Regions from separate parts of the Homo sapiens genome. Here region 2 is linked to region 1. The links come from fine-mapping of genetic effects on gene expression. A gene starts in region 1. The other region holds a variant in brackets. All regions are shown on one strand. Distances are from middle to middle. Region 1 holds the start of GRAMD1C (GRAM domain containing 1C). Region 2 overlaps GRAMD1C (GRAM domain containing 1C).

What was found. PIP is the estimated chance that this variant, and not a neighbour inherited with it, causes the effect. A credible set is the group of variants that fine-mapping cannot tell apart.
Region 2: its variant is the best candidate, but not a certain one, in a credible set for the expression of GRAMD1C in whole blood (TOPMed, PIP 0.61).

Annotation. Positions count from the first base shown.
Region 1 is chr3:113,836,525-113,840,917 of GRCh38, reverse strand. GRAMD1C (GRAM domain containing 1C) reads right to left here and starts at 2,130. Exons shown (of 18, transcript NM_017577.5): 1 at 1,982-2,130. The coding sequence starts at 2,008. RefSeq lists a silencer at 1,918-2,117.
Region 2 is chr3:113,885,640-113,890,032 of GRCh38, reverse strand. All of the region lies in intron 6 of GRAMD1C (GRAM domain containing 1C), which reads right to left. It also overlaps the pseudogene CTDNEP1P1. Among named protein-coding and RNA genes, the nearest start is that of GRAMD1C, 49 kb to the right of the region's middle. The variant G/A (reference allele first, on the strand shown) is at 2,331.

The DNA.
Region 1 (4,393 bases):
TTAACTGCATCAAATTTTCTCCAGGAGCACAAGTATAACATTCCATTGATGACATCCTCCCCTGAGGACAGTCTTTTGACATACTCACAAAGGAGCTCACAAAAGGAGGATGGGCTATTGTGCCACACATAGTGTAAGGCCTACCACCTTGGTTAAATTTCTGAAAATAATTTGGTCTCTGTCACCCAGGCTGGAGTGCAATGGCACAAACAGGGGTCACTGCAGTCTCAACCTCCTGTGCTCAAGTGATCTTCCTATCTCAGCCTCCCAAATAGCTAGGACCACAGGCGCCACACAACCATGCCCAGTTAATTTTTCTTTCTTTTTTTTTTTTATTTTGGTAGATACAGGGTCTTGCTTTGTTGCCCAGGCTGGTCTCAAATTCCTGTCCTCAAGCGATACTTCTTTCTGCCTTGGCCTCCCAAAGTGCTAGAATTACAGGCATGAGCCACTGCACTGGGCCACAATGGCTGACTTAAATTCAAATTCAAATTCAAATGGTGCAGGTCAGTCATCAAACATCAAGGGTGAAAAAAAGACCTGGAGCCAGTTTTTTCCTGAGGCTCTCTTAAGCCATTTTAGTGCTGCTTGAGAGGCCTGCCTTGCTCTCCCTGGAGACCTTAATTATGTAAGTAAAAGACTTTTTCAGGGCCGGGCGCGGTGGTGGCTCAAGCCTGTTATCCCAGTACTTTGGGAGGCCGAGGCGGGCGGATCATGAGGTCAGGAGTTCAAGACCATCCTGGCTAACACGGTGAAACCCCGTCTCTACTAAAAACACAAAAAATTAGCCGGGCGTGGTGGCGGGCGCCTGTAGTTCCAGCTACTGGGGAGTCTGAGGCAGAAGAATGGCGTGAACCCGGGAGGCAGAGCTTGCAGTGAGCCGAGATTGCGCCACTGCACTCCAACCTCAGGGTGTGTGTGTGGCATCATCAGTTTCTACTCCAACCTCATGGTGTGTGTGTGGCATCATCAGTTTCTACACCTGAATCAAATTTGGGATGGGGGTCCATTCTGGCTTTCTGGGGTGGCTACAGTAGATTCCTGTCTCTCTGACTTATTAGCTGTGTGGTCCTTAGCAAAGTCAATCTCTGTACATCTGTTCCTTAACTCTACAATAGAGGAAATAATTTTATCTCTAGTCTAGACAATAAGCTTATTGAGAGCAGGGATCATGTCTGTGTTAATCACCATCTAATCCCGAACACCCAGTGCCAGGGACATAACTGAATCAGTGACTGATTGGGTTCATGAATATCCAGCTTGACTATTTCATAGTAATGTTTTTCAAATCAAGTGAAATAACACTCATTCATCTGTTCATTCAACAATTATTTGTGTACCTCCACTAATCTGTAAACTATAACGCTCTTCAGAAGATATAGCACTGACCGCAGTTCTCTAAAAGTAAAATACATACACACAAACCAATGTAGAAGGAGGATGGTGTTCAGAAACGCAGGCGCCCGTCCAACAAAAGCGGGGTTTCATCCTGAATATTAATAAGCACGCTTTCCGTTTTGTCAAATAAGGTAGTAAACAAATAAAACTAGACTAGTTGAAATCAAAAACTTGGCTGACAGCACAGTGATTTAAACTATCCGGACCTTTACAACAGGGCTGAGAATGAAAGGAAGGGGGCAAGGCTGGAAAAAACGTTGACAGTGGGTCAGAATCACGACCATGGGGCCTGACCCAAGGGGGCCTGGGGCTGAGACATCCGCACCAGGACATTTCGGGACCAAATTCAAGCCCTCAACGCCCACAGGGAAGCAAATGTCCCCACCACCGCCCGTAGGGAAAGGGCTCGCAGAGGCACAGGAAACCGTTTCCTCGGTAACAACTTTCCGTATTACTCCAAAGAGCACGAAGAAAAGGGAAGGGAGGGATTAACTGTAATCTGAGAAGGTTCAAGCAATCACCGTGAGAAAAAGTAGGCTAAAGCCACAGATGGGAACCTGCCCCAGCGAGGCCCGCGGCTTACCTGACGGACAGTCGGAGCGCCCTCCATCGCGGCTCCCTCCGCCGCCGCGGCACCGCCCCGCGCGCACCGCACCGCACCGCCCCGCGCCCACCTCCAGCGCGCGCTGCGAGTTACAGGCTCCGCGCGCCTCCTCCGCCGGCCCTCCGAGTACTTCCAGCCGCAGCTCCTTGCGCCCTCTGGCGGCCGTGAAGGATTCCTGACGATGGGTGTTACCGGGTTAGCCTGAAGGCTTGTCTTTCTAGGGGTCACAATGAGACTTCCCTATTCCCAACCTCAAACTACTGTGCCTCCCAGGAAATGGCATACCCTGCCCCAATGTGCGAAAAGGTGAATTGCTCGGAAACTTTTTTTTTTTTTTTTTGAGACGGAGTTTCGCTCTCATTCCTCAGGCTGGATGGAGTGCCAAGGCCCCGTCTCGGCTAACTGCAACCTCCGCCTCCCAGTTCAAGCGATTCTCCTGCCTCAGCCTCCCGAGTAGCTGTGGTTACAGGCGCCTGCCACCACGCCCGGATAATTTTTGTATTTTTAGTAGAGACAAGGTTTCACCATGTGGGTCAGGCTGGTCTCGAACTCCCCACCTCAGGCAATCCGCTGGCCTTGGCCTCCCAAAGTGCTGGGATTACAGGCGTCAGCCACCGCCCCCGGCCAGGAAACTCTTGTTCCTTCCAATAAAGGATTGAAGTTACTGATTAACTGCTGTACGTATTGCAGATTCTTGGTTCTGTAAACCAAAAATAAAATGCCGAGGCCCACCCCCAGCCATCTAAATGGACCCCTCCTCTTGGCCAAGAGCGTTCCAAATTTAACCTGAAAATCTAGTTCAGGCCATGATGAAAGAGGGGATTGGACATGCCTCATTAACATCAACACAGACCTTAAGTCTGAGAAGAAATATTTATCATCTATTGCCTCGGACACCTGCTACTTGGAGGCTGCATCTGCATGATAAAACCTTGGTATCCACAACCCCTTATCCTAACCCAGACATTCCTTTCTACTGATAATAACTCTTTTTTCTCTTTTTCTTTTGAGACAGGTTCTGGCTCTATTAGACCAGCTGGAGTGCGGTGGCGCAATCTCTGCTCACTGCAACCTCCACCTCCCGGACTCAACCAATCCTCCCACCTCAGCCTCTCGAGTAGCTGGGACTACTGGCGTGTGCCACCATGCTTAACTACTTTGTTTGTTTGTTTGTTTGTTTGTTTGTTTGTTTTTTGAGACAGGGTTTCGCCATGTTGCCCAGACTGGTCTCGAACTCCTGGACTCAAGCAGTCTGCCCCCTTCGGCCTCCCAAAGTGCTGGGATTACACGTGCAAGCCACAGCTCCCAGTCAATAATAACGCTTTCAACCAATTGCAAATCAGAAAATTTTTTTATGTACCAATGACCTGAAAGTTCCTCCTTCTCGCCTTGGAGCTGTCTCCCCTTCCAGATTGAAACAATGTAAATCTTACATGTATTGATTGATGTATTAGGTCTGCCCAAAATATATAAAAGCAAGCTGTACCCCAACCACCTTGGACACATGTCATTGGGACTTCCTGAGACTGTGTCACAGGTGTGTCCTTAACCTTCACAAAATAAATTTTCTAAATTAACTGAGGCCTGTCTCAGATATTTGGGGTTCAGAGTTCCCAACCAAACAGCTATAAAAAAGACATTCTAAGCCAGGCACAGTGGCTAACTCATGTAATTCCAGCACTTTGGGAGACTAAGGTGGGAGGGTTGCTTGTGTCCAGGAGTTCAAGACCAGCCTGGGCAAAACAGGGGGGCCCCATCTCCAGAAAAGAGAGACAGAGAGAGAGAAAGAAAGAGAGAGAGAGGGAAGGAAGGAAGGAAGGAAAGAAGGAAGGAAGGGAGGGAGGGAAGACATTCTAGAACAATTGAGGAATAGTGAATATGAAATGGCTATTAGAGTTGATGTTACAGGATAATTAATGATTTATGTATACATTTATGGATATTCATTTATGGATAATTAATAATTTTTGGCAGCTGGGCGTGGTGGCTCAAGCCTGTAATCCCAGCACTTTGGGAGGCTGAGGTGGGAGGATCACCTGAGGTCAGGAGTTTGAGACCAACCTGGCCAACATGGTGAAACCCTGTCTCTACTAAAAATACAAAAATTAGTCGGGCGTGATGGTGAGCACCTGTAATCTCAGCTACTTGGGAGGCTGAGGCAGGAGAATCGCTTGAACCTGGAAAGTGGAGGCTGCAGGGAGCCGAGATCAGGCCATTGCACTCCAGCCTGGGCAAGAAGAGTGAAACTCCGTCTCAAATAATAATAATAAATAATAATAATAATAATAACTTGTGGCTATGTTGCAGGGTGTCTTTAATATTAGAAAACTCACACTAAAATATTTAGGAGTTCCCTGTTATCCATGGGGATGTAAAAAAAAAAAAGTATTT
Region 2 (4,393 bases), 49 kb before region 1:
AATGTGTCTGTCCACTTCAGGAAGGTGCTTAGCTGGGGAGTAGGGAGGAGAGGAGGCTAAGTTCCCACCTGCCAGCTTCAAAGAAAGAAACTTTCTTGTCTGGGTGGAGGCTCACACCAGTAATCCCAGTACTTTGGGAGGCCGAGGCAGGCAGATCACCTGAGGTCGGGAGTTCGAGACCAGCCTGACCAACATGGAGAAACCCTGTCTCTACTAAAAATACAAAATTAGCCAGGCTCAGTGGCGCATGCCTGTAATCCCAGCTACTCGGGAGGCTGAGGCAGGAGAATCACTTGAACCTAGGAGACAGAGGTTGCAGTGAGCCGAGATCGCCATTGCACTCTAGCCTGGGCAACAAGAGCAAAACTCCATCTCGAAAAAAAAAAAAAGAGGCTTTCTTATCTGCAGGAAATCTCTACTGTTCCCCTTAAACCATTTCTTTTAACAGCAGCTTTACTGTGCTATAATTCACATACCTGAAAATTCATCCCTCTAAGTGTACAATTCAGGCGGTTTTCACATATCCAAAGTTAAACAACCATCACCGCTAATTTCAGGACACGTTGTCAACCCAGAAAGATAACTGACTCCATCAGCTGTCACTTCTCATTACTCCCTCCTCCAGGCAATAACTTTACTATTTCTGTTTCTATGAACTTGCCTATTCTAAACATTTCATAAGAACAGAATCCTACAGGATGTGTTCTTTTATGACTGGCGTCTTTCACTTAGCATTATGTTTTCAAGGCTCATCCATGTTGTAGCATGTATCACTACTTCACTACATTTTATTACTGAATGATATTCCACTGTGTGGATATACGTTTTTTTTTAGAAGGAGTTTTGCTCTTACTGCCCAGGCTGGAGTGCAATAGCGCGATTTCGGCTCACTGCAACCTCTGCCTACCCGGTTCAAGTGATTCTCCTGCTTCAGCCTCCCGAGTAGCTGGGATTACAGGCATGTGCCACCACGCCCGGCTAATTTGTATTTTTAGTATAGATGGGGTTTCTTCCATATTGGTCAGGCTGGTCTCGAACTCCCGACCTCAGGTGACCTGTCCGCCTCAGCCTCCCAAAGTCTGGGATTACAGGCATGAGCCACCACACCAGGTCATACATTTTATTTATACATTAATCACTTGATGGACATTTGGATTGTTTCTACTTTTTGGCTATTATGAATAATAAATGCTGCTATGAACATTGGGGTACAAGTTTTTGCAAGAACAGATCTATGGTAAACATTTTGAGGAGCTGCCAAACTGTTTTTCAAAGTGGCTGCATCATTTTACAATCTTTCCAACAATGTACTTGAGGGATCCACTTTCTCCACATCCTCAACAGCATTTGTATTTAAAAAATTTTTTTTCAGCTTTACTGAAGTATAATTAACAAATAGGAATGGTACATATTTAAGGTATACAACTTGATGTTTTGATATGCATATACATTGTGGTCGCCACAATCAGGTTAATTAACATATCCATTGCCTCATGTAGTTATCATTTGCTTGCTTGCCTTCTTTCTTTTTTTGTACTGGTGAAAAAACTTAAGATCTACTCTATTAGCAAATTTCAAGTATACAACACAGTATTGTTAACTGTAGTCAGCATGGTGCACATTTGATCTCCAGTACTCATTCATCTTGCATAAATGAAACTTTGTATCCTTTAACCAACATCTCCCCATTTCTTCCTACCCCTGGCAACTACCACTTTACTCTCTGCTTTGAGTTCAACTTGTATAAATTCTACTTGATAATAGTATATACCTTTTCATACATTGCTGGATTTGATTTGCTAATATTTTGTTGAGGATTTTTGTGTCATTGTTCATAAGGGATACTGGTCCAGAGTTTTCTTGTGGTGATGTCTGGTTTTGGTATCAAGGTAATACTGTACTCATAGATAAAGTTGTGAAGTGTTCCCTCTATTTTTAGAATACTGGGTGAAGGATTGGTGTTAATTCTACTGTAAACAGTTGGTTCACCAATGAAGCCACCTGGGCCTGGGCTTTTCTCTGTGGTAGGTTCTTTATCATTAATTCAATCTCTTTTCTTGTTATAGGTCTATTCAAATTCTCTATTTCTACTTGAGTCAGTTTTTGTAGTTTGTGACTTTCTAAGTACTTATCCATTTCATTTAGGGTAAATAATTTGTTGGCATACAATTATTCATAATATTTCCTTATAATTTTCTTATTTTTATAAGGTTAGTAGTATTGTCACCACTTTCAGTCCTAAATTTTACAATTGTAGTCTTCTTTTTTTCTTGGTTGATCTAGCTAAAGGTTTGTCAATTTTCCTTTTTTTTTTTTTTTTTTTTGGAGAC[G/A]GAGTCTCGCACTTTCACCCAGGTTGGAGTGCAGTGGAGCAATCTCGGCTCACTGCAAGCTCCACCTCCTGGGTTCACGCCATTCTCCTTTCTCCTGCCTCAGCCTCCCGAGTAGCTGGGACTACAGGTGCCCTACCACCATGCCCGGCTAATTTTTTGTATTTTTAGTAGAGACGGGGTTTCACCATGTTAGCCAGGATGGTCTCGATCTCCTGACCTCGTGACCCACCCACCTCGGCCTCCCAAAGTGCTAGGATTACAGGCGTAAGCCACAGTGCCCGGCCTCATTTTTTATAAAGAAGCAACTTTTGGGCTGGGTGTGGTGGCTCACACCTGTAATCCCGGCACTTTGGGAGGCCAAGGTGGGTGAAACACCAGAGGTCAGAAGTTAGAGGCCAGCCTGACCAATATGGTGAAACCCCACCTCTACTAAAAATACCAAAAATTAGCTGGGTGTGGTGGCAGGCGCCTGTAGTCCCAGCTACTTGGGAGGGTGAGGCAGGAGAATCGCTTGCACCTGTGAGACGGAGGTTGTCTGAGATTGTGCCACCACTGCACTCCAGCCTGGGCGACAGAGTGAGACTCTATCTCAAAAAAAAAAAAAAACAAAAAAAAAACAAAAAGGCCAGGCGCAGTGGCTCATGCCTGTAATCCCAGCACTTTGGGAGGCCAAGGCAGGCGGATCACGAGTTCAGGAGATTGAGACCATCCTGGCCAACATGGCGAAACCCCATCTCTACTAAAAATACAAAAATTAGCTGGGCGTGGTGGCGCATGCCTATAATCCCAGCTACTCAGGAGGCTGAGGCAGGAGAATCCCTTGAACCAGGGAGTTGGAGGTTGCAGTGAGCCGAGATCAGGCCACAGCACTCTAGCCTGGTGACAGAGTGAGACTCCATCTCAAAAAAAAAAAAAAAAAAAAAAACAAGCAAACAAACAAAAAAAAACAACTTTTGGTTCTGAATTGTCTATTTTTCTATTCTTTACTTCATTCATTTCTGTTATAATCTTTATTATTTCCTTGCTTCTTCTTGCTTTGCATTTAGTTTGCTGTCCTTTTTCTAATTTATTTTTTTTTCAAAGTTATAATGTGTGGTTTAAAAGAGAGGAAAGGAAAAAAGACACAAAGCTGGTTACAGGTCTGAGGGAGTCTAAGGAGAGAAAAATAGAAGGAAAGTAAAGAGGGGAAAAATTTAGGGAAAATCCAGTGGCCCAAAATCCCAGTATCCCACCCACAGCCCAGCCCTTGGAGCAGGAGTGAAGAATTAGATCAGTTTTGTACAAGAGTTTTTTAAAAAAATCGAATCACAACAAAGCTGACTTGGCTTCTCTTTGAGCCTCCTGGATCACCGTACGTCTGTCACTCTGGCCAGTCCTGCCTCTTCACAAACACTGATTCGGCTCCCCTAGGCTTCCACCTGTGTCCCAGTCTGGGGTTTCCATGGAGTGTGAACATGAAGTTAAGAGTGAGGCTGCTTCAGAGCCCCCAGCCCATGTGTCCATCCAGACTCCAAGTGGAGTGTAGGGCTCCCAGGGCAGAGAGGGGTGGGAGGGGCAGACCCTGCCCAGGCAGTCCTCACATTGGACAGGGCATCAGATGGCATCCCAAGGGCTCGCCATCCCTTTCCCCCCCGCCCCCCCACCCCAACCCAAGTGGAGGGGGATTAGCTGTCACCAGAGCCGATGTTGGTGAAGGTTTCGGCTCAGCACAGAATGAACGTCAGCGGTGAACCTGAGGGCATCCAGCATCGGGAGCAGGTTGAGAAGGGCTGTGTCGCTGGGGTCACTGAACCAGGATTTGATGGGGATGGCATTGTCTGGATGGCTCCTGTAAGCCCCTAGGGAGTTATCCAGGATCACAATGCTGGAGAGGTCACTGTGGACCACAGAGAGGTCCTTGATGTAGCTGCTCAACTGCAAAGTGCAGTGCTGTCTGTAATATCTCCTCTTAAGGATGCTTCTGCTATTGTCCAGTTTACCTGCCACAGCAAAGCCATAGATCTCCATGCTTTCTGTAAACACCACCAGCTCGTACCACTGGCTCACCACTTCCAGGAAGAAAT